2 linked regions of the Homo sapiens genome follow. The protein of the gene in region 2 interacts with the protein of the main gene of each other region in a biochemical or structural test. Each region holds a gene or a part of one and is shown on either strand. Other genes may lie near its edges.

Evidence for each region. Proteins that work in one complex are often made in the same cells at the same time.
Region 1: of the proteins of NOTCH1 (region 2) and PRKCD, one has a biochemical effect on the other in vitro, tested with the Homo sapiens proteins (one study listed by BioGRID).

The regions. Positions count from the first base shown.
Region 1 is NC_000003.12:53,178,209-53,181,708, forward strand, and holds part of PRKCD (protein kinase C delta type), read left to right. Parts: intron 1-195; coding exon of another isoform or gene 196-214; coding exon 215-329; intron 330-1,368; coding exon 1,369-1,568; intron 1,569-2,998; coding exon 2,999-3,059; intron 3,060-3,235; coding exon 3,236-3,398; intron 3,399-3,492; coding exon 3,493-3,500.
Region 2 is NC_000009.12:136,494,049-136,497,548, forward strand, and holds the end of NOTCH1 (neurogenic locus notch homolog protein 1 preproprotein), read right to left. Parts: coding exon 2,023-3,500; 3' UTR 385-2,022; downstream 1-384. UniProt on the Homo sapiens protein: Functions as a receptor for membrane-bound ligands Jagged-1 (JAG1), Jagged-2 (JAG2) and Delta-1 (DLL1) to regulate cell-fate determination.

The sequences.
Region 1 (3,500 bases), on a different chromosome or scaffold from region 2:
ATTACAGGCGTCAGCCACTGCGCCTGGCAAACCTCTCAGTTTTTAACACTGGCAACTGAGACTAGTGTGTGTGTGCATCATGTGGGCCAAACCCAATCATAGCAGAGCCCTGGGGGAGCGGGTCCCTGAGTGCTGCCCGTGACTGTTCCCGCTGGTCCCGCCCGGCCGCCTGGCCTCACCCCTCTGTGTGCACAGCCCCACTGCAGGCCCCACCATGGCGCCGTTCCTGCGCATCGCCTTCAACTCCTATGAGCTGGGCTCCCTGCAGGCCGAGGACGAGGCGAACCAGCCCTTCTGTGCCGTGAAGATGAAGGAGGCGCTCAGCACAGGTAGGCCTGGAGGCTGGACCCTGGAGAGGGGCTGGGAATCTGGGCCCAGCTGGAAGGACTGGAGGGGGCCTGGCCTTGTTCCCTGCAACCTCTGAAGGATTCTGCTCTTCCTCATCCTTGACTCCCTGCCCCACTCAGCTATGAAGGCAGAGGCCACTGAGTCGCTATAGGGCTGCAAACACTGGCCAAATTGAGCCCTCCTTGGAAGGCTTGGAGTTTCTGGTTCCTCCTCCCTGGTTGTTTTACCCAGCAATTTTTACATGTCCATTTGTGCCAGGGCCTGTGCGGGGCACTGAGGATACTGTCATGCTCCAGGACTAACCTGGCCCTGCCCTCATGGGGTTCATAGTCAGGTGGGGAAACCAGGCACGTCAAAAAGCAGTGAGTCCTGCAATAGGGAAGCCCAGAGAAGGCACCCTCTGAACCTGAGGTCAGGGAGGACTTCCTGGAGGAAGCACATACCTCACATCATTCCCTCTTGCTTTTGCCCTGGCCTGGTGAACCCCTATTTGTCCCTCAGGTCTCGGCTGAACTGTTCCTTCCTCTAGGAAATCTTCCCTGACCCTTAGGCTTGACCCTGTAGCACTACCAGCCTTGCCCTCTTCAGTCTCATCACAACTGTGACTTAACAGTTACTTGAGGAAGGAGTTGGTGCATTCGCCACCCGGGCCTGGGGATCCAGGAGGACAGGCCCTGGATGTAGCTTTTCTTTCAGCTGTGTTCTGCGCCTCGAATATTATGGCTGGCATGCAGGAGCTGTCAGCCCATGTTCCCTGCATGAATGCATAAGGGCAGGCGACATTTAAATGGAGCTGGAGCAAGAGGATCAGAGGAAGAGGGAACAGCAGGAACAAAGGCCTGGAGGGAGGACCTAGCAGGGTGCCCAAGGTAGTTCTGTGCTCTAGAGGACACTGGGGAACCACAGCAGGCCCTCAAGGCAGGAGAGTCGGGCAGATTCTGCCAGGGGAAGGCCGTGGAGGTCTACGAGGGAGGGACAGAGGGGCCATGGCCCAACCTTCTCTGCCTGGCCTTGTTGCAGAGCGTGGGAAAACACTGGTGCAGAAGAAGCCGACCATGTATCCTGAGTGGAAGTCGACGTTCGATGCCCACATCTATGAGGGGCGCGTCATCCAGATTGTGCTAATGCGGGCAGCAGAGGAGCCAGTGTCTGAGGTGACCGTGGGTGTGTCGGTGCTGGCCGAGCGCTGCAAGAAGAACAATGGCAAGGCTGAGTTCTGGGTAAGGGGCGCACGAGCCGTGCCGTGTGTGTGTGTGTGTGTGTCTGTGTGTGTGTGCATGCGTGCATGTGTGTGCGTGCACACACGCGGGCTTGGTCAGTGAGCACAGCTGAAGAGCACCGGGCCCTGTGCTGGCCACCAGTCCAGCCCTGTGGCCAACATGTCCTGGGTGTGAATCCTGGCTCTGCAATTCACCAGATTCCCAGCCTCTCTGAGCTTCTGCTTCCGCATCTGTTAAGGGAAGGCGCTACTAAATGTGCCTACCTCAGGGTCAGTTGTTCAAATGAAAGGAGCAGCTGGATGTACAGGGCTTATTGCAGAACCTGACACATAGCAGGTGCTAAAGACGGCCAACTTCCTTATTGTGACTACTTTTTCCTTTTTAATTTTGGAAAGGCAGGATATGCACATAGTAAAACATTTTTAACTGCATGAAAGGGTGTGTCCCTGCCCCAACACCAGGCCACCAGGCCTCCTTCCCAGAGGCACCCATTATCCCAGTTCTTTTTGGAATCTTCGCATATATTCTAGGCCTTGGCAGCCATTGAGGGGGCAACATAGTGATCTTTAACAGCAAGGAGGTGGGAGAAGGGGAGGCTGACGGTCTCATCTACTTACCTGCTGAAATGGAGACTCTGCACAAGCATGTGGCCACTTGGCCATGTGCAGCTGTGTGTTCTGGGTGGCCACAGGATGCCAGTGCTGGCAGAAGTCCCCTGGGGTTACATGTGGGATGTAACCAAGATGTCTCCACCAGGAAAGGCCCTGTGACCATTGGAGGCTCTGATCAGCCTCCTGCGAGGGGTGAGGGGGCTGGGATGGGAGAGAGGTTAACACAGGGCTGTACTGACCCTTGGCCAGTCAGGCAGGGACACAGAGGGGCCTCTGGCTGTGCTGTCTCCGCTCCCCCAAGGGAGGATATCAGTCACCAGGTCTAGGTCTTGGGGGAGGTGAGGGGATAGAGGCTCAGGTCCCACCCTCGAGACTGTCCAATCTGCATGAGGAGCCCTCGGCACAGAGGGAGGAGCAGCGTGTGTGCACGAGGATGAGTGTGTCTGTGTGTCTGTCTCTCTCCGCATGTGCACACGGGTAGGGGCCTCCATTCTAAGATCCTTGCTAAGGGAGCTGCAGCGGGTAGGGGTGGGGAATTTCCCTTCCCGCTCTATTCCCCAGCTATGTGTCTGGGCTGGGTGTGGGCTGGACCCTTTCACTTCCCTAAATGTAATAATACCCCTGGGTACAGGGTGGGGGTGGGGCTCAGGAGTGGGGCTCAGGCGGGGCCCTGCCCACACTGGGCAGACAAGTGTCTGGCTAGGCCTTGGGGGGCTGCCTTGGCCTTGGGGGACCAGCCATGGGGGTGGGTTCTGAGTTTGGCCTGGCCCAGGCTGCCCTCACTGACCTTGTTCTCCCCTGGCCTCTGGCCCCCAACAGCTGGACCTGCAGCCTCAGGCCAAGGTGTTGATGTCTGTTCAGTATTTCCTGGAGGACGTGGGTAAGAACTCCCTGGGGGTGGAGGGCTCCCTTGCCGGGTTCAGAGGCAGAGCCAGCACTGAGGTGTAGGGAAGCTGCTCCCTTCGGCAGAGCTGTCCAGGACCACCCTGGGAGGGACTGTAGGGGTGCCACCCCTTCCAGATACCAGGGCTGACTTCCCTACTCCATGGTCACCAGATTGCAAACAGTCTATGCGCAGTGAGGACGAGGCCAAGTTCCCAACGATGAACCGCCGCGGAGCCATCAAACAGGCCAAAATCCACTACATCAAGAACCATGAGTTTATCGCCACCTTCTTTGGGCAACCCACCTTCTGTTCTGTGTGCAAAGACTTTGTCTGGTGAGAACCGGCCATGCCCACTGGTGGTGGTGCAGGGTAGTGGGGGCCGATCCCGGTCCCCGCTCACTCACTTTGCCTGGGTTTTGCCTTTCAGGGGCCTCA
Region 2 (3,500 bases):
CTGAGGGGCTGTCCCCAGGATGGCTGGGTGGGACCTTCATCCCTCCGAGGCTGAGAGGAGAAGAGCCCCGAGCTGCCAGGAGGGCCAGACTCACGCATGGTGTCCTGGGAGCCGTGTCACCCCAGGCACGAGCCCCACCTCCCATAGGGCTGCAACCCCCTTGCTGCTGTGTGTCCATCTCCCTACAAAGGGCCTGGACCAGGCAGGCTGCAGACACCATGGAGTCCCTGGAGGCAGCGTGGTCCCCACACCCCCGTGGGCCAGGACTAGGCAGCCTCACCGTCACTCTCCCAGCAGAAGGGGCCCTCGACTCCTGGCTCCCTCAGAGCATAGCAGCCCTGCCTCCCTCCCAGAAAGGGAGCCAAAGGCCAGAGCAGAGGGGAGTGGAAGCCAGATCACCATCAGTATCATTTTTATTGCAAATCAGTTAACAAAAAAGATGAAAAAAATACATCATCTACAGTTCCTCATGTAGATCACTTTTAAAGTCTTTTTCTGTAAACTACACTCTATTTTATAAAACACAGTAAAAATCAACATCTTGGGACGCATCTGGTCATGCCCCCTGGGGATGGCACCACGCGGCCCCCGTAGAGCCGGGGGAGGCTGCCCTGAGGAGTGCAGGCGGCACGGCAGCGGAGCGTCCCCAGTGCATGGGCGGCTAAGGCTCCCCGAGCTGAGCCAAGTCTGACGTCCCTCACTGGCATGACACACAACAGACTCATTCATTAAGATTTTTTAAACAAAATCCACCTTTAAAAACATATTTACAGACATTTTTTCTGCCATAGGCTATACTTGGTATTGCAAAAATCTGCTCCTCCCAAACTAGGAGGGGTGGCCCAAGGGCAGCCCCCGCCTCCCTCCAGCCCCTGCCCGACCGCATGCCCCCTGCCAGGGCTGCGGGGACAGGACCAAAGGACGCAGCCCACGGCGTTGCACAGCTCAATGTGCCCGGCTCTGGCAAGTCTCCTACAAAACACGGGAGCCCACGGGGGGTCGGGTCCCGCGAGCTGGGGCCCAGGCTGTGTTGCTGGAGCATCTTCTTCGGAACCTGGGGGACACTGTGCAGGCTGAGGTGCTGGGGCCGCCACCGGGGTCAGCCCAGGCAGTGTCTTTCCCCAGAAAAGGGTAGGATGCCTCCGTGTGTGACCCAGGCAAGTGCCACAGTCCACACATCTCATGTTTGACATGCATGATGCCTACATTTCAAGAACGGGCAGGGGGCCGGGGTGGTTCTGGAGGGACCAAGAACTTGTATAACCAACGAACAACTACATAATACTGAACCTGAAACAAAGATTCATGATTGGTACCATGGGTGCACTCTTGGCATACACACTCCGAGAACACATTTTCACAAGCATGCTTGCAAGAAACCATCTAAAACACATGGCAACATCTAACCCATATGCTTTCACTTGTTTCCTATTTCAGATGCAAATTAATCCGCGTGCGGAAGGTGAGCCAGCTTTGCCTCCGTTTGCCTCTGGATGCAGCTTCTCCTAACAGGCAGGTGATGCTGGTGGAGCGGCCGGGCTGGCTTGGGGTTGGGTGGGCGTCGGGGAAAGGGCGCGGCCTGGACGCCCCAGGAGCTTTTTGGACTATGCTCGTTCAACTTCCCTTCTCCAACATCATTTCTTTTTGGATTTTGAAAAAAGGAATCAATAAATAAATGGCATTTATAAATCATGAATCTTTGTTTATATTTTATAAACACAGAAGAATCTTTTCATCCTACGTAGGAAAACCCTGGCTCTCAGAACTTGCTTGTTTTCTCAGAATAGATAAAAGTTTCTACCTGGGGCCAGATAAAACAGTACATATAAATAAAAAGGCAGTGTTTCTGTGTAAAATAAAAGTACATAAATAAATACTAAAAAAAATTAAAATCCTCGTTCTTATTTTGTATAAAAACATGTGTTTTAAAAAGGCTCCTCTGGTCGGCCCTGGCATCCACAGAGCGCACACAGACGCCCGAAGGCTTGGGAAAGGAAGCCGGGGTCTCGTGGGGCGCGCCGTTTACTTGAAGGCCTCCGGAATGCGGGCGATCTGGGACTGCATGCTGGTGGGAGGGCTGGAGACGCCCTCGGACCAGTCGGAGACGTTGGAATGCGGGGACGAGCTGGACCACTGGTCAGGGGACTCAGGGGACGGGGTGAGGAAGGGGTGCTCAGGCACCTGTAGCTGGTGGCTGGGGGTGTTGTCCACAGGCGAGGAGTAGCTGTGCTGCGAGGGGGGCGTCAGGAACTGGGCTGCGGTCACGGGTGGGACCAGCGAGGATGGCAGCGACGTGGGCAGGGCGGGGCTCTCCTGGGGCAGAATAGTGTGCACCGCCAGGCTGCTGGGGCCCAGTGGCTGCACGTCTGCCTGGCTCGGCTCTCCACTCAGGAAGCTCCGGCCCAGGTGGCCGCTGGCTGCTGAGCTCACGCCAAGGTGCGGCTGTGGTGGTGGTGGTGGCGGCTGCAGGCTTTGCTGCTGCTGGATGTTTGCTGGCTGCAGGTTCTGCTGCTGCATCTGTAAGTTTTGTGGCTGCACCTGCTGGGTCTGCACCAGGTGAGGCTGGGTGGCCAGCCGGGTGCTGGGCAGGCCCTGGTAGCTCATCATCTGGGACAGGGCGCTGGCAGCAAGGCTACTGTGCAGCGGGCCTACCATGCCATGCTGCAGGGAGGGGGCCTGTGTGCTCAGGGGGCCTGGTGCCACACTCCCCCGCAGAGGGTTGTATTGGTTCGGCACCATGCCGCTCTGCAGCCGGGACAGCCACTCGCATTGACCATTCAAACTGGTGGACCCGCCCACAGTGAAATTCAGGGCCCCTCCGCTGCTGGAGCCCAGGACGGTGCTGGTGCCAGAGGCCACAGGCAGGTGGGAGAGACGAGGTGGGCCAGTCTCAAAGGCCAGCCGGCCGCCCCCACCCAGCGCCGCCATCTCGGGCTTGGCCGCCACGTTCAGGTGCCCGATGCCCAGGTGGGTGTCGGGCATCCCAGGCAGGTGGTTGAGGGGCACGGACGGAGACTGCTGGAACGGGGAGGGCAGCAGTGGCGGCGAGGCCACGTCTGACAGGTAGCCATGGGGTGACTCCAGGGAGTCCACGGGCGAGAGCATGCCGGAGCTGTCCAGCAGGCAGCCCTTGCCGTCCTGGGACTTCTTCCTCCGTGCCTTGAGGTCCTTGGCCTCCTTGCTTCCACAGGCCAGGCCTTTGCTGCTGGGCTTGCGGACCTTCTTGCCCTGCACGCCGGGCTTGAGGCTGCCCAGGTAGCCGTTGGGCGAGCAGAGCGGGGGCGACAGGGTGGGCGTGCCCCCCAGCGGGGCTCCGTGCAGCTGCGGGCTGCGCACCAGGTTGTACTCGTCCAGCAGCCTCACGATGTCGTGATGCATGCGCTCCTGTGCGATGTCGCGCGGCAGGCGGTCCATATGATCCGTGATGTCCCGGTTGGCAAAGTGGTCCAGCAGCACCTTGGCGGTCTCGTAGCTGCCCTCCCGGGCGGCCAGAAACAGGG